3 separate regions of the Homo sapiens genome follow, and regions 2 and 3 are each reported to be linked to region 1. Evidence: microRNA targets listed by miRTarBase, many of them from high-throughput screens and not tested one by one. Region 1 holds a microRNA gene; each other region holds the end of a gene's coding sequence.

Region 1 (7,193 bases):
AGGCGCAGGCCATGTGCACAGCCAAAGACTTTTTCTTTTATGGGGAGGAGTAAACAAGGTTAGAAAGAACCAGCTGTGGGAAAATAAGATGCAAGGGCTATTGTACAGGACAATCGACCAGGGAATGTTTTATTCTTCTCAGGAGAGGTGCTTAAGGAGGGGCTGTATTCTGGCTGAGGCTGTGGATGGACTGAAATTCAGAGGCCTGGCAGTGAGGAGAGTAAGTTAGGTTAAACAAGCATTTTGTTTCAATTGATCACTGGGGACAAAACAGTTCAGTTAATCATGTACGAGACAACGAAATGGGAATTTGGAGGGTCTATGTCTGCCCTTGTCTTAGACAAGGGGTTCATCCTCAAGTCTTATCTAAGTCATATACGGAAGGGTGGTTCTTCTCAGTAAGCCATCTCCTGGAATGCAAAAAAGCGGGAGGATTTCTTTTTTGTTGTTAGTTTTTTTTAACTTTTTGTAGAGACAGGGTCGTGCTATGTTGCCCAGGTTGTTCTCAAGCTCCTGGGCTCAAACGATCCTCCCACTTTGGCCTCCCAAAGTGTAGGGATTACAGGGGTCAGCCACTACACCTGGGCCGGAAAAGTGGGGGGATTTCTTCACTGTCGCTGTTGTCCACACACGCAAGGCTCCGGTAAAATTCCGCACTGTTGCAAAGAAAGATGCTTTGCTGCTGGGTGGAGAACTTTTTTTTTCTTTTTTCTTTTATTTATGTATTTATTTATTATTATTTTTTGAGACAGTCTTGCTCTGTTGCCCAGGCTGGAGTGCAGTGGCACGATCTCGGCTCAATGCAACCTCTGCCTCCTGAGTTCAAGCAATTCTCCTGCCTCAGCCTCCTGAGTAGCTGGGACCACAAGTGTGCACCACCATGCCCAGCTAATTTTTGTATTTTTCATAGAGACGGGGTTTCACCATGTTGGCCAGGATGGTCTCCATTGCTTGACCTCGTGATCCACCCACCTCAGCCTCCCAAAGTGCTGGGATTACAGGCATGAGCCACTGTGCCCAGTCTTTTTTTTTTTTTTTTTAACAGGTTCTTGCTTTGTCACCCAGGCTGGAGTGCAATGGCACAAACATGGCTCACTGCAGCCTCAACCTTTGGGTTCAAGCAATCCCCCCGCCTCAGCCTCCTGAGTACCTGGAACTACAGACTACAGGTTCATGCCACCACGCCCAGCTAATTTTCTTTCTTTTCTTTTTCTTTTCTTTTTTTTTTTTTTTTGAGACAGAGCCTTGCTCTGTTGCCCAGGCTGGAGTGTAATGGTGTGATCTCAGCTCACTGCAACCTCTGCCTCCTGGGTTCAAGCCATTCTCCTGCCTCAGCCTCCCAGGTAGCTGGGACTACAGGCATGCGCCACCATGCCTGGCTAATTTTTTTTGTATTTTTAGTAGATGAGGTTTCACCATGCTGGCCAGGCTGGTCTTGAACTCCTGACCTCAAATGATTCGCCCGCCTCGGCCTCCCAAAGTGCTGGGATTACAGACGTTGAGCCAAGGCGCCCGGCCCCACCTAATTTTTTTTTTGTAGAGACAGCATCTTGCTATGTTGCCAAGGCTGGTCCCCAACTTCTGGCCTCAAGCGATCCTCCTGCCTCAGCCTCCCAAGTATGTAGGACTACAGGTGCACACCACCTCACCCACTAATTTTTTTTCTTTTTTTTTTTTTGAGATGGAGTTCCACTCTTGTTGCTGAGGCTGGAATGCAATGGTGCGATCTCAGCTCACTGCAACCTCCGCCTCCCAGGTTTAGGGGATTCTCCTGCCTGAGCCTCCCAAGTAGCTGGGATTACAGGCGCCCACCACCATGCCTGGCTAATTTTGTATTTTTAGTAGAAACAGGGTTTCACCATGTTAGTCAGGCTGGTCTCGAACTCCTGACCTCAGGTGATCCACCCACCTTGGCCTCCCAAAGTGCTGGGATTACAAGCGTAAGCCACAGCACCCAGCCATTTTCTTAAAAATTATTTTTTGTAGAGATGAGGTCTCATTATGTTATCCAGGCTGATTTCCACCTTCTGGGCTCAAGCAATTCACCTGGCAAAGCCTCCCAAAGTGCTGGGATTGCAGGCGTGAGCCACTGCACCCACCCTGTTATCTTTATTACTGTCTTTTTCTTTTTTTTTTGAGATGGAGTATTGCTCTGTCGCCCAGGCTGGAGTGCAGTGGCGCAATCTAGGCTCACTGCAAGCTCTGCCTCCTAGGTTGAAGTGATTCTCCTGCCTCAGCCTCCCGAGTAGCTGGGACCACAGGCGCCCGCCACCACACCCGGCTAATTTTTCATATTTTTAGTAAAGACAGGGTTTCACCGTGTTAGCCAGGATGGTCTCAATCTCCTGACCTCGTGATCTGCCCACCTCAGCCTCCCAAAGTGCTGGGATTACAGGCGTGAGTCACCACGCCCGGCCCTCCCCACCTCCCCCCCCCTTTTTTTTTTTTTTTTTTTTTGAGATAGCGTTTCAATCTTGTTTCCCAGACTGGAGTGCAATAGAACAATCTTGGCTCACTGCAACCTCCGTCTCCTTGGCTCAAGCGAGTCTCCTGCCTCAGCCTCCCAAGTTGCCGGGATTACAGGCACACGCCACCACACCCAGCTAATTTTGTATTTTCAGTAGAGATGGGGTTTCACCTTGTTGGTCAGGCTGGTCCTGAACTCCTGACCTCAGGTGATCTGCCCGCCTCAGCCTCTCAAAGTGCTGAGATTACAAGGCCGCCTCTCCCCAGCTGCTTCTCTCAAAGACAAGATGCACAAGCCAGAGGAAATGTTTCGTTTTATTTTTGCTCATAACCTCCCAAAAAAATCAGTACCCCGCCATCCCTCACCCAGACACAGCCCCTCTCCAACACCTTCACGAAACACTGATTTTTTTTCTTAGAGCTAAAATGAACACCCAGTCACCAACTACAGCCCTGCCCTGCCCCTCCTCCCACTGGCCTGCTCATCTTCCCGCACTGCAAACCTGGCCGCCTTTAGCCTCCCTCCCTTAGCGTAGTGTCCCAAGGTCACCTAGCCTGCTTTTTGCCTGTAGGATATGGGTCCCCTTCTCAAAGCCCGCCCTGACTTACTTCCTCATTTGCATAGTCCTTCAGCTCTATCCTGTCGCCACTCCACCCACCCCAGACAACCACCTGTAAGAAACCAGGTTTGAAATTCAAGAGACCAGGTTTCCAAGCTCCCAGCTGCTTCCCTGTGGGCCTCGGTGCCTCGGCTGTTATGTGACGGGCATAGACATTGACTAAGGCCAAACATTTCATGATTTGGACGAGAAAGGAGGGAAGGAGATCCAGAAATACGCAAGAGAGGTGATAAGCAGAGACAGAGGATAAAAGGATAAGAGTAGAGAGGAGTTGGGTGGTTTGGTGGGGAAGAAGGGTTGATTTTTTTTTTTTAATAGAGACAGGGTCTTACTATGTTGCCCAGGCTGGTATTGACCTCCTGGCCTCAAACGATCCTCCTGCCTTGGCCTCCCAAAGTGCTGGGATTACAAGCATAAGCCACTGCACCCGGCCGAGAGGGGTTTGGAATGAAGGTAGAGGCAGGGGGATGAAGGCGCCAGAGCTGAAGACCAGCCCCCAGAAGCCACACCCCTGCCCTTCTAGCAGCTACGGGTCCTCTGGCTCCGGGCCTTGTAAACCTCGATGAGCAGGTCCTTGACGTACTGGATCTCGCGCTCCACGGACTCTGCCCGTTCCTTCAGCTCGCGATTCCGTGCCTCCAGCCCCTGGCACTCGCCCTCCAGGGCCTCACCCTCTGCCCGCTTCCGCTGGCGGTACCTCAGAGCCGCCGACTTGTTCTGGTCTCTCTTCTTTTGCTTGCGGTCCCCTCGGGTGGTGGCAGGATGTGGGTAGGGGGCCAGGCGAGAAGGTTGAGGTGGAGAAGGAGGAGGGGGCTGCTGTGGCGGGGGCAGAGGCGGCATCCCCACTTCCTCCTGCCCGGCCTCGTTGCGGCAGTAGATGGCCAGCAAGTCCAGAGTATCCAAGACAGGGGGCTGGGGGAGGTCAAAGGAGGGGAGGGACAGGGGGAGGGAGGGGGCTGGTGGTAGTGGTGGTGGTGGTAGTGGCGGCGGGGAGGGTGGTGGGAGGGGCGGGGCATCTAGGAAGAAGTCTTCCATCTGTTCCAGCTCCTTCTTGAGGAGGGAGGCCATAGCTTCCAGGTCAGGTGGGGTTGGGGAAGGTTGGGGGAGGGTGCCGGGGGGTAAGGGAGGCTCCAGAGGGAGGAGAGCTGTGAAATCAACTCGCTCAGTCATCCAGTCAGAGAAGCCATCACCTGGGATTAAAGTGGGGAGGGACACAAAATTCCCTGAGTTGCTGGTCTTCTGCGTAGTTGGGTGCTGACTCACGTCTCATTCAGGTGCATCTGTCCCATTCATTCAGTAAAACAACTAACCACTGAATCATCAAACCAGTCAATAAACCAACAAACCAGTGAAGAAACCAATAAACCAGTCAACGAACCAACCAACAATCAACCATCTAACCACCCAGTCAACCAACCAACCAACCAACCAACCAATGAACTAGTCGACCAATCAATCAGGGAATCGGTCAACCAACCAAATAAATCAGTCAACCAACCAATCAACCCATTAATCAACCAATGAACCAGTTAACCAAAACCCAACAAATTAGCCAATGAAAGAATCAGTCTTAACCCATAAGAGGGTCCAGGAGAAAAAAAAAATTAAAAAAGAAAAAAAGAACCAGCCAACCAACCAATGACTCAAGCAACAGTCAACCAAGCATTTCTTCAACCATTCCAACATCTCCTTTACCGAGTACTCTGTATCTGTGGTGTCTCTATTCTCTCTTTTTAAAAGGCAAACTAGATCACATTACACACACAGATACACACGCACATATGCCTTGTTTCATCTTTACTCATTAATTATTGAAAACCCACTATGTGCCAAGCATTTGGGATACAGTAATGAATGAAATGATTCCTGCCTCCTGAGGGCTTCTGCATATACAGTTCCCTCCAACTAAAATGCTCTTCCCTTGGGTGTTTTCCTCATTCCTTCCCTACTTTTTTTTTATTTTAAGGGATAGGGTTTCACTCTGTTGCCCAGGCTGCAGTGCAGTGGCATCATCTTGGCTCACTGCAGCCTAGACCTCCCAGGCTCAAGCGATCCTCCCACCTCAGCCTCCCAAGTAGCTGTGACTACAAGCGTGAGCCACCATGCCTGGCTAATTTTTTTTTTCCTATAGATATGAGGTCTCGCTATGTTGCCCACGTCCTGAACTCCTGGACTAAAGCAATTCTCCCCGCTTGGCCTCCCAAAGTGCTGGGATTACAGGCCATCATGCCTGGCTTCCTTCCCATCATTTATGCCTCAGTCAACATGTTACCTACTTGGAGAAGGTTTTCTGGCTACCCATTCTATATTAGGTCCCCTTTGTCATTTTGTAGCTCAGCTGCTAGGTGTTTTTGACTTATTCCAATACACTCTCATTTAATTTATCTCTGGTCTACTCCCCACAGTGTGAGCTGCTGGAAGGCACAGACCATGTTCTTCTTGTTCCCAGCCGTATCCTCAGCACCTAAAACAGTGCCTGGCACATTGTAGGCACTCAATATTTATTGAATACATGGATGAGTTCTTCCTCCCCCATCTTCCCCTGCCCTCCACTCCCCAGCTCCACCTTCCACCTGCCCTTACCTGCCAGGGGCTCTCCCCCCACTGGAAGCCCGCCCTCCAGGGCTCCCCCAAGGACCTCATAGGGAGCCAGGGGGGCAGGGGCCGGGGGGAGTTTCCCATAGTCTACGAGCCATCCCAGCCCACTAGCTGGGAGCAGGGCCCTGTCCAGCTCCAGCCCCAGGGTCGCCAGGAGTGACATGGCTGTAGCACAGGTGCTGGGCACTGATGGCAACAGGAGAGGCTGCACCAGCAGCTGGCACGAGGCTCTGGAGGATGCTCAGGTGGGCGAAGACAGGCACCAAGGCGAAAGTGGAAGACCTACACGCGTGAGACAAGAGTGGGTGTGGTCAGGACAGCGTCATCCACCGGCCAAAATCAAGGGGAAGCCAAGCCACACCCCCAGGCACGTCCATGAGGCTCCTCCCTCCCCCTTCCAACCACCGTTTAGAACACTAAGCCTCAGCCTCTCCGAATTCTAAATTTGCCCTTTCTTTACCCAAATCTCTGAGCCCCACCCACTCCCAAGGGAATTTCTTTAGGTCCTAAAGTAGGACCGATGCCCCACCCCTTCCCCCAATACAGAAAAAAAAAACCTAAAGGTCTCCCAGGGGAATTACCTTAGGCCCCTCCCATCCACCTCAGAATATTTCGCCTCAAGGAAAAACTCAATCCCAGGGACATTTTCTTCCAGCCACGCCCCTTCCTCTAAAATATTTCCTTTTGGCCCCACTGCCTTCCTAGCTTCCATCCCAAACCAGTTCCCAGGGGAACTGCCCCAGGCCGCAGCCCTTCAGCAATGTTATCCACTCAAATCCCACTCCTCGCTCTGCCGCTGCCCCTCCAAGCCCCGCCCCTCATTGTTTATTTAGCTCCGCCCCTCCCCCGATTCCCCAGAGGCCCCGCCTCTTTGTCACATCGAAACCCCACCCCTCAACTAACGGTTGGTTTAGCCCCGCCCCTTCTCACAATGTGCTTCCGAAATCCCACCCATCGTGACGACAGTGGTTCTATCCCCACCCACTTAGAGGGTTGCCTCTGGGTCCCGCCTTCTGCCCTGTCAATCTAAGCCAGTCCCCGCCTCAGCAGGTGCCTGGTTTAAAAGGAAGGAAGCTGGGCTGTGAGCCAGAGCAACGTGGGGCAGGGAGGGTGGAGGAGGGTAGAGGGGGCACGCGGAGAACGGCTACCCGAACGCCACCCGTCCACACGCGGCTCTGCGCCGAGGGCCAAGGCGCATGCTACGTCGCCCGAGCGGTCCAATTGCCTTTACACCTCCGCCCTCTTGGGGATCAATGCGCATGTGCGGCCATTCAGGGTCCGCAGCTCTTTCACTACGGGGCACTGGTGGGCTACTGCGCAGGAACAACCAAGCACGAAGAATCGTTTAGAAAAAAAAAAAACACACCCTCCCCTGGAGTGCTCAGGCCCAGCTGCACGCGGGCTGACAAACATCGAGTCTAGAACTCTCCCACCCGGCCCCGGGCCCAGTGCGCATGCGCAGCCGCGCGCCTTCGGCCCACCGTACTACTTCTGCGCCTGCGCGACCGT
Region 2 (7,179 bases), not on the chromosome of region 1:
TACTGGTGTTTCCTGGAACCCCCTCGTAAGCAAATTATTTGCACTTCAATTCTTGTCTAGAGTCAGCTTCTGGAGGAGTCCAACCTAAGAAGGAATATGATCCAGTGTGGGCAAAGATGTAAGTAGAAGCCTGTTGGGGCTTCTGGAAATCGTTCCCTCCCTGCTCTGGTAAAAGGTGAGGGAGGAGAAGTCCCCCTTTTCCATCTGCCTTTTTTTTTTTTTTTTTTTTTTTTTTTTGAGACAGAGTCTCGCTTGTTGCCCAGGCTGGAGTACAGTGGTGTGATCTCGGCTCACTGCAACCTCCGCCGGGTTCAAGGGAGTCTTGTACCTCAGCATCCCAAGTAGCTGGGATTACAGGCATGCACCACCATGCCCAGCTAATTTTTTGTATTTTTAGTAGAGACGGGGTTTCGCCATGTTGCCTAGGCTGGTCTTGAACTCCTGAGCTCAGGCAATCCACCTGCCTCAGCCTCCCAAAGTGCTAGGATTACAGGCATGAGCCACTGCACCCAGCCCACCTGCCCTTTTTGTTCTCGAGGGATGCCATGTGTAAAGACACAACGCTTGGGGCTGTAGTAGCCATTTTGTGACTAGGAGGGGAGCCATGGACAACATTCTGGGCATGATGGAGCAGGAGGTTGGAAGCCAGGATCCTTGATGGTGTCTTGGAGTTTCCTGATCAGCTCAGGGCTCACCCACTTCCGCATTTCTAGTTAAGGAGACAATAAATGTCCTTACAGTTGAGGCCATATTTATTTGGGTTCTTTGCTGCTTGCTGCCGAACACATCAATATTGATACAAGCTTTGTCCCAGAGGTGTTACCTTTGAAATCAGGTCCTCCCACTACTACCTTGAGCCCTTGGGGTAGAGCGGGAGGCAGAGGGGGGCACAGGCTTGAACTCCACAGGTGGCTGAGGGCCAGGGGTCCTGGACGGGAGAGGAACATGGGGGAAGCTAGTGTCTGGGGTCCCAAGAATAGGGGATGGGGAGGGCAAGAAAGTCAGTCCTCCATTAATCCGGGCCAAGAGGACCATTGTTATTGTTATTAGCACGAAGCATCTCGAGGCTCACACTCGTCCTGGCCTGGCTGGGCCCCCCTAATGGTCCCATAAATCCCAGCCATAAAGAGTAATGGGGGGAGACAAATGAGATAATTAGGAATAAATCTCAGCGCAGTCTCTATTCATCAGCGTCCCTAGAACTGGCCAATCTTCCGAGCCATTAGCCAGGTCCTAATTAATGCTGAGCTGCCCAGCTCTGCGGAGGCTCCATGCCTGGGAGGGATCCGGGCTAAGGGGCACCACTGCCCCCACAGCCCACAGCGGGCGACCTTGGGAGGGGCCGGGGGCTGTGTGCCTTCAGCCTGCTGCTTCACCTTTCCGTCTCCAAGGGCCTTAGTTTGTCCGCACCCTCCTGTCTGCCTCCTTGTCTCTGTCTCCTTTTGTTCATCTTACTCCATCTCCCCGACTACCTTCAATCCCGTGTTTCTCTCTTATCAGATGGCCGCAGTCTATGTTGTTAGCTATGGAAGATCTGAGTTAGAAGGAATTGTGGGACCACCTGTAAAAACTCTCCACCATCTGTCCTTTCTGCCGCCCTGTCAGTACCTGGGCAGGGACCTAATCTACACTGGCTCCCCCAGAACAGTCCTTGGAACAGGGATGACCCCAGCCCTGCCCCCTGCTGTGGCTGTCCATCTTTCCTGGGGCAGTTCTTGCTAGCAGAGTATTCTCTCATTCCTGGAGCTGGGAATGCTCTTTCTGTTATGTCTGCTTCTCGGTCTTACCCCTACCTGCTGGAGGCTGAACATAAGCCGCACTCTACTCAAGCTCCAGGTACTTGAAGGCCATTCTTGCCTTCTCTTCTCCAGCCAAATGTGCTGAGCTGCACTCGACAACTTGAGGTTTCCAGCTGGGTCTCCTCTACTCAGGGACTTCTCTGTACCACCCGTGGTAGTCTGACCCCACGGTAACTTCTGTTGTTTTAATCTGTTAGCTTTCCCCTCGTTTTTCTTATAACACCCCTACCTCTTTGGGAGGTTTCCCTTCCTTGATTCTATCAGGGTCTGGAGGGGTGGCCAAGTAGCCCACTCTCCCAGGCCACAGAGGCAGCACACGATGAGGCCTGGCCAGCCACAGCCCTCCGTCCCCTGGCACCGTGATTGGCTCAGGGATGAGCCTGCTGATGTGCGGGGCCAATCAGAGTGCCTCCCTGGCCTTTGCTATGTGGCCCCAAGGCAGTAGAACTGAGACGGTGCCAGGTGGACCGTGTGTCTACCCCTTCCCACTCCACATGTATCTGTCTGCAGTAGGAGGAAATGTGCCCCGCACCCAGAAAGAAGCAGACCCGGAGATGGCAGGGATTGTGAACTGGACGGTGGCTACGGCCTGGGGGAAAGCGGTGAAACCAGGTGAGAGGCGAGGAAGGGCTGGGAGATGGCTTTTCTCCAGAGGAGGCTGAGGTGATGAAAGGGCTGTGACTGCGGCTGCCATCCCATACCGTGTGTCCTCACCAGCCTAGGAAAGTCAGAGCACAGAGGAGCATCTGCACAGAGATGACAAGGGACCGGCTCTGTGAGCTCTGTCCCCATGACTCGCTACTCCCCCACTGTGGCCTGAGCCTCCTGTCCCTGCTTCTCCCTCACCTCTCTTTGCCCAGGGCCAGCCCCAAGGACGACTAAGCTGTTTTCCAGCTCGGTCAACAAGTGGAGTCCCGCTGCCCCCTGCTCAGCCCTGGGATTGTGTGCAGCAGTTGGCCTGAAAACCCCAGAGACCAGCCCCAGCCCCCACAACCGGACCATCACCCTGGGGAGCAGGTGAAGCTGTTGAGGGTGATGGCACGGGGCAGGGATGGACCTGCTCAGCCCAGTGTCAGAACTGCTTAGCGGTGTTCTGTCCTGGCAGCTCTGGAGCCATGGAGGCCATGGGGCCTGAAGCTCAGTTTGCCCCGCTCTGAGTATGAGAACAGGCTATGCCAGTTAAAGTTCCAAATACAGGGAGAAGCTGATGGAGACTATGGAGGCAGAGGGGTCCGGCTGATTGCCCTCCCCTCACAAACCACCCCCTGGTTCAGCTACTTGCTCTGCCGTGGGGCCACCCCTCTTAGGTTTGGCGCACAAGATCACTGAGTGGTCATGGACAGTACTAGCCACAGATGGCTAAACTTGGCCTCACCACCTTCTCTCCCACAAGCAGGGGGTGCTTGCCTTGGTTTAGACAACCCAGGGGGCGGGGTGGCCTCTTAAGATGTCTCCCAGGCAAAAGTGGCCTGATCTGCTGCTCCAAAGATGAAAGAAGACTGGAGAGAGGCAGGTGTTCCCTGGACACTGTGGCTGCAGTCTACCCACTCTTCCGTCGTACACACAGGCTTGGGGAGGAAAGGGCCTCTTTCCCGGGGCCCACAGCACAGCCAGGCCTAAAACTGTCTCCTGGCTCAGCCCAGCCGTTGGAAAGCAGAGCCTGGGAGCCTGTGGTAGACCATGAGGAGAGGGAAGGGCCCAGAGCCAGGGCTTTTGCCATTTGCTGCCCGGCAGGGATCAGGGCCACCTGGGCAAAGACAGGGAGGTGAGGAAGGCAGGGCAGGTGTGGGACGAAGCTTGAATGGATAGGCATGAGTCTCCACAGCCCAGCCTCAGGCTGGCCAGGGGTGGCGGCGGCTGCAGGCTGTGAAATGTGTGAGTGTGTGTCCGTGTGTGGGTAGATGTGGTGTGAGTGTGTGTGTGGTGCGGGTGATGGAATGCATGAGCCTGCGGAATGTATGTGAGTACGTGACTGTATGGAAAGTCTGTGTGAGTGTATGTGTGTGTGCATACAGGTGTGAAGTGTGTGTGTGTGTGAGTGTGTGAGTGTGTGTGTGTGTGTGTGTGTGTGTGTGTGCTGGGGGGCTGGCTAAATCCTTCCCCTGTCCCGCCCCAACCCAGCTTAGCCTCTAGGGTTTCAGCCACTGTCCTAAAGAAAACAGCCTGGAGCCTGCAGCAGGAAATCGCTGTTTGGATTGCAGAGGCGCCTCTTCCTGCCACAGCCCTGCGGAGCAGGGAGGGCCAGGAGCAGGCCTTCCTGCCCACCTGGACCAGATATCGAGCTGGTCAGGAGCCCCTTCACCCCCTGATCTGGCCTCCCTAACGCCCTTCAGACCCCAGCCTTGAGGACTGAATGGGAAACCCTCCCACCGTTGTCTCTCGAGGGCAGTGGGAGAAGTGGATGCCCCCGAGGCTGAGTGAGCCGAGGCTGGAACACCCTCACAGAGGAAAGCCAGGCAGTCCTGTCAATGGTAGGTCCAGCAATCCCACATTCACGAACATTCTGCCGATACAGCTCATTCATGCAAAAGGGTGTGCCTCGCTCAGCCTGGTTTGTACCAAAGCGCTTGAGAGCGGATTAAGCAGAGCTGGGGGTCCCTGGACTGTGGCGCATCCATCCAGGGCAACTCAGCCAGCTCTCCATGTGCTGGGAAGGAAGCTCCCCAAGACATGGCCAGGTGGGAAAAACAGGGTACAGTGCAGTGTGTACAGGATCCTCACATCTTCGTAAAAAAAGAAAACACATACATGTAAATGCTTGTGTGTGCACAGATCAGACTTTCAAACCTTCCGTACCTTGGGCAGGCAATAACTAAGAAAATATATAAAAATACGCACAAATAGATACATGAGTGCTGGGGGTGCCTCGGGGACCCTCTACCGGCTTGATTGTGAGACCCCAGGCAGGTCCCTTCCTCTCTGTGTCCTGAATTTCTTGTGTGCTCTCAGAGGTCAGAAAACCTTGAAGCTGGTGAAGTGAGGCGTGTGTGCGTGGAGATGGAGTGGGGAGGGGGTGGGGGGCTAGTTTGCGTTGCCTGTTAGAACCTCCTCCTCCTGCTGCAATGAAACCCACTCCCAAGGCCATAGGCTGCTCCCTCCTGTGACATTCCTTAAGAGAGTTTGGATTTCATCTGGCCCTTTTCCCCAGTCCCCACTCCTTCCTTCCAGAATCCCTCGGAACCACTCCAAGCCTTCATTCCTGGAAGCAGTGCCCACTAATACCCCTGCAGCCCCCGTCTCAAGGCCTTCATCAGCTGAGTGTTCTCCAAGTTGCCCCAACTGTCCCAGAGCCTCTCATGCCCCCTGGACCTCTCCTGGCCTCCTCCAGGTCCAGGATATGTGTGGGGGGTGCTGGTCCAGCTGCCCCCAGTGCGGCCCTGCGATCCTCACAGCCGCCATTGCTTCTCAGGCCCTTCCCTCTGCACTCCAAGGCCGCCCCACAGATGGCCGTAGGGGCCCATGCAGTCCTGACAAGGCTTCCTTCTTTCTCAGACGCCTGGCAATAGGGGGATGCCTGAGGCTGGGTGTGTGACCCCCACTGGGCCTCCAGTGAAGCCCAGGGGCAAGTCTGGGCTGCCCCAGGCCTGGAGTAGCCCCCTCCCAGGCACCCCTCTGGCACTGTCATGGGCATCACCTATGCCTTGGAGCGACTTCATGGGATAGAGCTGGAGAAGCTGAAGTCAGCAGGAGATTAATTAATCAAAACCCGAACACATCTGCTGTTAATTAATTCCATGCCAAGGTTAACTCTTCCCTCTGGGCTTCCCCTCCCCTTGGTGGGAAGAAGGAAATAATGGTGGGAGACAGCACCCCCTTAACCTTCTTCCCTTAGTGGGAAACATGAAGAAGGGAGGGGAACGTGAAGGGCAGGGCAGTTTCTGGGGTAAGAAAGCAGAAGAGGCAGGGCCCCCAGAGGGCAGGGCAGCCTCACCCATGTGGGTGCTTTTTAGCGGTGGTAGGGGGCGTTTGCTTTTGAGAGTCAGGGTCCATGGCAATTAGTCATGAGTCCTGAGGAAATCTGAGATGGACAAATATCTTTATTTACAGCAACAGATAGAACAGACCCTCCCTCCCTTCCCTTCCTTTCCCCTTCCAGTCTTTTCCATACTGTTCCCCCTCCCGCCCCACCCCAGGCTCTCGCCTAGCCCTGCCCTCTGGGGTCACTGCGTGGGTTAGGCCCCCAAAAAAGCCTAGGAAAGGAGACTGGAGAGGGCTGGCTGAGGGTGGGTGGGGCGTCTCTTCACATTTTTCTGTCCTCTAAGCCTGGGGTGGAGGAGAGAGGCAGGCACCAGGAGCAGGGAGAGGTAGAGAGCTACGGCCCCACCGGCCCACCCTCCCCAAGTAACTTTCACAGTGTTCCCCAGCCCTGGCTGCCCCCTGCGGTCCCCACCCCAGCCCTGCCCCTAGGTTGTCCTGTCAGGTCCTCAGCAATGTATGAACCTGGTAACCCAGTAAAGAGTTCAGGCTTCTCTGCCATGGGCCCACCACCCACGGCTGAGGAGGTGGCCCCTCTGAGTGCCCCCCACTATTTTCAAGGCTGGGGTTCTGAGAGGACATGGGTGGGTAGGAGAGGACCAGGGAGAGGGGGCTTCTCAAGCCTTGTGTGACAGTCCTGGGCCTGGCCCCACTCAGAGGGACCCTGCTGGAATCTGCAGGGGCGCCAGGCTGGCTTAGCCCCCGACAGAGGCTCAGGAGGAGAAGCAGAGCCCACAGCACTCCATGCAGATCTCCAGGCAGTCCGCGGACTCGCAGCAGGCATCCAGGATGCCGCAGTCCAGGTCGCAGGGCAGGTCGCAGTCGGCACACTCGCCAGAGCCACAGCAGCAGCAGCAGAGGCACGAGTCCTCCGAGCTGCAGGAGCCACAGGTGGCGCAGTCCAGGACGATGTTGCACAGCGTCAGGAACTCGCAGAACAGGCAGGACAGGATGCAGTGGACACAGCAGTCTGCGGGGTGGCGGTGGAGAGGGGGACGGGTGAGAGAGGGGAGGGATGAGCGTGTGTGAAATAGCCGGGGGTGTGGGGGCCTGCGGCAGCGGCAGCAGCAGGGACGCTGAGTGTTCACTGTGTGCCTGAAGCTCACGAATCCGTCCCCACAGCTCCATTTTCTAGGTGATGACCCCGAGGCACAGACAGTTAAGCACATCGGAGCGGGCAGTCTGGATCATCCTTGCTCTTAGCCACCCTCTGTTTATTTGTTTAACCAACATATGGAGTGATACATGTTCTTGGCACTGTTCTGAGTGCTGTGCATGAATTACATTCATTTAGGCCTCCAATGAATCTATGAGGCAGGGGCCTTTACTAGCCCCACTCTACAGATGAAGAGACTGAGGTTAAGAGAAGTCGGCCGGGCCCAGTGGCTCATGCCTGTAATCCCAG
Region 3 (7,193 bases), not on the chromosome of region 1:
CTACTTGGCAATCCTGGCTGGGATACACTCCAAGTCACTGGTGCCTGTGTATGTGAAGGTGAGGCCTCAGGCTGAGGGCACCCCCGGGAGCACCGGCAAGCGAGTGTCCACCTGCCCCTTTTGCTTTGGCCCCTTTGTGACAACTGAGGCCTATGAGCTGCATTTGAAGGAGAGGCACCACATCATGCCCACAGTCCACACGGTCCTGAAGTCTCCCGCCTTCAAGTGCATCCACTGCTGTGGGGTCTACACGGGAAATATGACCCTGGCTGCCATCGCCGTCCATTTGGTGCGCTGCAGAAGTGCTCCCAAGGACAGCAGCTCAGACCTGCAGGCCCAGCCGGGTTTTATTCACAACAGTGAACTGCTTTTAGTCAGTGGTGAAGTGATGCATGATTCCAGTTTTTCTGTTAAGAGAAAGCTGCCTGACGGCCACTTAGGGGCCGAAGACCAGCGGCATGGGGAGGAGCAGCCTCCCATCCTAAATGCCGATGCAGCCCCGGGTCCAGAAAAGGTGACGAGTGTTGTGCCTTTTAAAAGACAAAGGAATGAAAGCAGAACAGAGGGACCTATTGTCAAGGACGAGGCTCTTCAGATTTTAGCATTAGATCCTAAAAAATATGAAGGCCGTTCTTATGAAGAAAAGAAGCAATTTCTTAAAGATTATTTCCATAAGAAACCATATCCTAGTAAAAAGGAAATAGAACTGTTGTCCTCACTCTTTTGGGTGTGGAAAATTGATGTGGCTTCATTTTTTGGAAAAAGAAGGTATATTTGCATGAAAGCAATAAAAAATCACAAGCCTTCTGTACTTTTAGGCTTTGATATGTCTGAACTTAAAAATGTGAAACATAGATTGAACTTTGAATATGAACCATAAAACTTGCAAAAAAAAAAAAAAGTAACTCTAAAGTAGTAGGTAGATTTTTTTCAGTTGAAATTTCACAGTGTTGTCCTCACTGTGTTGGTGAATCAACCTCAGTGGTCACTGTGCTGCTCTGCAGAGTTACTTCAGGTGCTGGAGAGACCCCTGTTACCAGGAAGCCAGTAGTTATTTCACATCTATTGTTTCCTGCAGTTTGATTTGTAACAGAACAGTTGTTTTCAGGTTTTTTTCTCTGTCATGTAAATGAAATCTTTTGATATTTCATGCACGCCTTGTTTTCCCACTAGTGTCAGTATCGTATGATAAGAAACTGAAATCTATAAATAATTTGCTTTTTCATTAAGGACATTTCAGCCTTTTTCAGAATACTTGATTTAACTGCGAGTGGAAGCATCGATCTCCTTCAGCTTTCCCTGTAGCAGCAGATGGTACAGTGAGTGTTCAGAGACGTGGGTACAAACCCTGTGATGTATGTATAAGGCTCCCTGAGGATGCACTGCATTAACTTACGCTGACTTCTTTGTAAGATCTTTGCTTATAGATTATAATTTAGATCTGTATTTTTTTAGGTTTATCCTAATAGCTGTTTTTTTTTTTAACCATAACTCATAGAAAATCAAATGTTTTTATTTGTTAAAAGTAGACTGAATTTGACATCTGGTATGCTGGTATGTAGCTCATACATCAAGAGTTATTTTACAAATAAATTTATTCTGTAGATGCAGAAATATTTTTCAGTGTAGATTTTCCCTTTTGATATGCTAAGTCATTTCTCCGTTCAGAGGTAAAACAATAAATTTTTAGTGCCTTTAGAATAAACATTGAAAGAATACACCCCAAAACTCTTCTCCTAACTTAACTACTCATAAACTAGTGAAAGGGAAGGTCTATGATACTCAGGAATAAGATTATTGCCCCTGAGTGTGAAAACTAACTTAAATTTCAGCATAGGGTTTCAGGGGACATGGCGAAGTTTACAGACTGAGATCTCAGTCTCCATGGTTGGTACAGTAAGTCTTTGACCACATTTTCTGAAGGTCATGTTTAGTGGAGAAACGGGCTTTTCTCTAGCTGGTTTAGGCTGGAAGCTGTGTCCGGGTCGATGGGATGGCATATTGTTAAAGAATCTCCATTGTCGTCACTGTCCTGTGGATGTTAAACCTCGTTTTTTTCCCCACACGATATTAAAACTTAAAGCACCAGAACCAGTCATGGAGACCAGCCAGTTTAGATGGTAAGTCATATTTCTGGTGGTACACAGCAGAGGAACCCCTTCACTCTATCTTTAGGTAGAAATATTTGGAGGATGTGACAGCCTCTGAGAAACATAATGTTACTATGTGGATTTTAAAAAATATAATACTTGCATGTAATTGCTATAATGTTCATATTTGAGGCAGTTGTGAAACTGGTTTATGATTGTTGGTGTACTCTGTTGTAAATTCAAAGAGAGCTTGTTGAACATTTTTTTTTTTTACCTATTGTTTTCAGAGTGTCTATTTTGAATTAAAATTTGTTACACCGCTGCAAATAGAACTGTTTAATTCTTTTAAAAGTTAAAACATTATTGTGAATCATAGGGATAACCTCTATATGGGAATAGATACCACATTTATTTTCTAAAAAAACCTTACCTGTCATTTGTGTGAAAATAAGAACATAACCCAAAAGGTCTAATTACTGGGGTCACAAAATAGGTGTAACTACAGATTCCTGATGATTCTATACTGGTAGCCCCCAAAGTGCCAAAGAAGGTATGTAACTGGGGTGTCAGTGCTGTGAAGTTTCCTTCACTGTGGCTGTGTTCAGGGTGAGTGTGGAGGAGGTGCTGATGAGGAGGCAGCTGCCGTCTGGCGTGGTTGAATCCTCACCTTCCTTTTGTTGTGTACGTTAGGGTTTCCCAGCCTCAGCACTGCTGACATTTTGGGTCAGGTAATTCTCTGTGGTGGGTGGCTATTCTGTCACTGTAGGATGTTGAGCAGTGTCGTTAGACACTAGTAGCACGCATGTCCCTACTCTCTCCCCATTGTGGCCACCAAAAATGTCATTACCAGGTGGTCCCTGAGGGGCAGAATCTTGTCAGAACCCTGGTAAAAGAGCTGATTTCTTGGTGCAGTTTAGCTGTGGTAGAACTGTTCATGCTGTCTTTAATGTTATGCTAGTTGCTGGTTACTAGTTTTTTAGGATTAGAGATTAAGATTTGATAGAAGCTGAGCTTCAAAAAGCACATGTGGGAGTTCTTGCAAATGTAAGAAATTTATTATTTGAAAATGAAAAAATGAGTAACAGATTAATAGTTGTGAACAAAGTTTAAACTTATTAAATTTAGAAGGAAGGAGTTTTTTAAATACAAAAAATTGTGTACTTTAAAATATTTAATCTACCTATGTAGCAGCAGCTTTAAAAATACTACACACTTGAAATCTATTCAGGTAAAACACATTTAAATATAGCATACTATTTTAGCTTCTCTGAATTTTGTTGCTCTTCTTTTTTTTTTTTGAGACGGAGTCTCGCTCTTTTTCCCAGGCTGGAGTGCAGTGGCACAATCTCGGTTCACTGCAACTTCTGCCTCCTGGGTTCAAGCGATTCTTCCACCTTAGCCTCGCGAGTAGCTGGGATTATAGGTGCATGCCACCACGCCTGGCTAATTATTGTAGATGGGGTTTCACCGTGTTGGCCAGGCTGGTCTTTAACTCCTGACCTCAGGTGATATGCCCGCCTAGGCCTCCCAAAGTGTTGGGATTACAGGCATGAGCCACCATGCCTGGCCTAAAATTTTTTATTGTAAACAGAATCTTGCACTGGTGCCCATGCTGGGATACAGTGGTGTGATCATAGCTCACTGCAGTCTCGAACTCCTGGGCTCAAGTTGTCCTCCTGCCTCAGCCTTCTAAGTAGCTGAGGTGCCTACCCATCATGCCCAGATTATTTTAAACAGTTTTTGTAGTGATGGAGTTTTGCTGTGTTGCCCAGGCTGGGCTTGAACTCTTGGCCTCAAGCCATGCTGCCACCCCTCAGCCTCCCAAAGTGCTGGGATTACAGGCATGAGCCACCAGGCTGGGCCTCTGTTACCCTTTTTTAGCAGCTATTTTAGTCTGATGACTGTTGTGTGCAGTTTCTTAGATTCACTAAACAAAGCAGCAGTTAATTAAGCACTAATTAAGAAAACTTAGCCCCAGAACTGTCCTAATTTTCAAGGTCTTTTTAGAAAATAGCACACATGTACTAACTGCTTGATATTGCTAGGAAAGGGGCTGCATACTTGATGATAGTCATCCTTGCTGCCTCCTGTGCCTGTGGCATGGCCATCAGCATGCGTTCTCACATTGAGTCCTACCGAGTGAGTGGTAGTCTCCCCTCTCACACCTGAGGAAATTGAGGCATGGAGGTAAATGACTTGCCTGAGGTGGAGGCCTGTGAGGGTGGACAGTGCTAGAGTGATAGCTGAGTGGCTTCTAACATGTATTATCCCATTTAAATCTCACAATAACCCTATAGGTATTAAGTTGTCTGTGTTTTCTAGAGGAAGAAACAAGCTCAGAGGCAGAGTTGGCTAGCTGTCCCAGTTTGCTAAGAACTTGAGTGATTTCTCTAGACTTCAGTGCTAAAAAGGAACCTCTTAGGCAGAGGGACAAGCTCGTTACTCCACTCAAATTTCAGTTTGCCCAGGAAGACATGTTGCTTCTCAGTGGTACAATATTATCGTTAGACCTGTACATTGCCCTTTGGGTATCAGGGTGAATAGGGCATCCTGATCCTAGACATCCTTTTTCTGGTGGTGCTGTCAACAATAACAACATAGAGATGGTTACCAGAGCAGTTCCTATGTGCCAGGTGCCATTCTAAACATTTTGCATGTTAAATTTGATAGTGACAATATATTAGTGACGAAGAATGATAGTCCTGAGTTAGTGAAAACAACGATAAAAAAATGCATGCAGTTTTGCTGTTTAGATTCTCTCTGCTGAATTTTCATGAACTAAGCAACAAAATTGCCATCTATGAAGTACTGCTGGAAGTTTCTCTTATGGTTATTAAGTGTCCAGTTTCTTCAAGCTAATTTCTTTTCATAGGTGGTGAAAGTAAGTGTGAGATGTTTCTGATGATGAGGGCTTACTTGGTAGCACACCTGCTAACTCAGGCTTCTGCAAGTTCGGCTTTCTGTTGTGCAGATGCTACACCACAGCTTTAGAATTCTGATTTTTGATCATTTGTCCTAAGTACTAAGTCTTTAATATTAACTGCAAGTTTAAATGTCATTTTAGCAATATAGAGGTTATGTAGGGAAGCTGTTTTCATATTTTGTGAATGTGCCTAAAAATACATTACTTAGAACAGTACCCAGCCCTTCACTTTCTTCAGATCCTAAACTCAGGAGTTTCTTAATTTATGATCCATGAACTCCCTTGGGTAAAAAGTGTAAATATGTGACCTAGAAGGTTGGAAAAATGTTAAAGTCTAGAATATTATCAGATTTTTCATAATAGAGAGTTAAAATGAGAATGTACTTAACTACCAACCTCAAAGACCTATGCTTATATGGGGACTGCTGTCTAGGAGACCACCTTATAAAGTAGATGAAACGCCAGAGCCTGTGGTGTCTGAAAGGGATCTTTAGGCCCATCATGGTGTCCAGTTCAAAACAAATACTAATACCAGTCATTCACGCAAATGATTCAGCTGTGCATTTTGAGAGGAAAAATATATGTAAGGTTGCTAAACAGTAGCTAGTGTTGTTCTTCATGGCCTTTTAAAGAGGGTGCTCCAGACCCACTTATCTTCATTTTGCTCATCACCAGCAACATGATTTCTTTTTTTTTGCATGCTCATCTCTGAACTAAACATTATTTCTTTTAAAAAAGAAAATACATAAAGTCCTTTTCAGAAGGGAACTTTCCGATAAGAATTTAAGATATTTAAAGTGTAAACTAAACTTTGGCAGCCACATAGACGTCTATGTTTGCTGTATGCAAACTAAGCTGTGAGGTCATACTTTCAAATACAAATACAGAATTAATTGCAATGAATCAATGTATTTTTTTTCCAGAAATTGTGTAGTTTCCTACAGTTTTGAACCCATGATATGGAAAGTTTAATGTTAAATAATTTGTCATTCACCTAAAAGTGCACTAGAAAAAATAGAACATTAGCAATGAATCATAAGGCTTTAGTGGTTCAGTGGTTCTTCTGACAGTAATCTTTCTGTGTTAGATGTATGTGTATCTCGAAAGAGTCATAAAATTCATAAAAACATCCTGTGAGAGTCACAGATCCATTCACTCGTTGGACTTCCTGGCCTCCTACCAAGCAGCTTGTTTAGAATGGGAAGACTGAATATATGGAAAAACCACACAAGACAGTTTGCTGAAAATAAAAACAATTCAAACTCCAAGCATCACATATATATAATTAGGATCCCAAATTTGGACTCTTATAAGCTACAAATGCTTGAAAGAGTCCCTGTGTAGGCCCAGATTAGACGTCTCATTACAACAAGGAAAGTGATCTTTGGTCCTAAAAAGGATGGGAGATTCATCCACCGTTTGTTATTATATTGTGGAAAACAGCTTATGAAAATAACTGGGAATTTATAAGAGGTCATTTTAAAGAGATTAGGAATTTTTTAGGGAAGGTCATTTTTGGCTATTAAAACATTTTTCTAGGTTTTATATGTGCTTTCAAATGATTAAATATATCAGTAAGACTACACGAAAGGAGAGGACAGAATTGAAGGGGAGGGCAAGGATTTTTGGAATGCACTTGGGAATTCCAAGTTCAGCCCTGCTCTGTTGCCCTGCTCTGTCCCCTGCTCCCATTTCCAGCCCCACGACCCCTTTGGGATGAAGCAGCTTGGGTGTCTAATTGTGTTGGTTCTAAGGCTGCCACTCTTCTGGTTATGTCTCACATGTTGTTAGAAAATTGATAACCTCATCCCAGAACTGCACATTGTATTTACAGTGGTTCTCTGTACCCCCATTTCCTAGTCACAAACGACTTCACTTCTGACTTCATTTTTTATTCATAGGTGATAGTAGTGATCATCTTTGTCTAATAAGCTCCTAATTGAGAAGTGAGCAGAATACATCTGTATCAACTCCCAGTGCTGTACATTTTCTAGCCATTTCCTAGCTATTTGTAGCATCGGTTTTTTGTTTTTGTTTTTTTGCTTTGATATAATATTCCGTGTTTAACTGGTTTGATAAATTAGGGTAAAAGTTGAGATACTAAAAATAGATGTGTTGCTACTAAAATGCTAAACATGGTTTCAGTTCAGTATCTTATGAAAAACAAAGTTCAGTATGAA

The links. The annotated mature microRNA hsa-miR-4751 reads AGAGGACCCGUAGCUGCUAGAAGG and lies in region 1 at 3,602-3,625, opposite strand. An mRNA with a match to its seed (bases 2 to 7 or 8) in the 3' UTR can be bound and repressed. Matches are read on the target gene's strand: a 7mer-m8 pairs with bases 2 to 8, a 7mer-A1 pairs with bases 2 to 7 and ends in A, and an 8mer does both.
Region 2: miRTarBase lists MDFI as a target of hsa-miR-4751. Seed matches in the 3' UTR shown: 7mer-m8 at 6,369-6,375.
Region 3: miRTarBase lists ADNP2 as a target of hsa-miR-4751. Seed matches in the 3' UTR shown: 7mer-A1 at 953-959.

What each region holds. Positions count from the first base shown.
Region 1 is chr19:49,929,505-49,936,697 of GRCh38, reverse strand. It overlaps MIR4751 (microRNA 4751), which reads right to left and starts at 3,634; the gene lies at 3,561-3,634. ATF5 (activating transcription factor 5) reads right to left here. Exons shown (of 3, transcript NM_001193646.2): 2 at 5,670-5,966; 3 at 2,763-4,276. The coding sequence starts at 5,847. The coding sequence ends at 3,606. RefSeq lists a silencer at 6,704-6,753.
Region 2 is chr6:41,652,884-41,660,062 of GRCh38, reverse strand. It overlaps MDFI (MyoD family inhibitor), which reads right to left. Exons shown (of 5, transcript NM_005586.4): 5 at 5,819-6,744. The coding sequence ends at 6,488. Among named protein-coding and RNA genes, the nearest start is that of MDFI, 18 kb to the right of the region's middle. RefSeq lists an enhancer at 2,034-2,648.
Region 3 is chr18:80,137,930-80,145,122 of GRCh38, forward strand. It overlaps ADNP2 (ADNP homeobox 2), which reads left to right. Exons shown (of 4, transcript NM_014913.4): 4 at 1-2,417. The coding sequence ends at 880. Among named protein-coding and RNA genes, the nearest start is that of PARD6G-AS1, 6.4 kb to the right of the region's middle.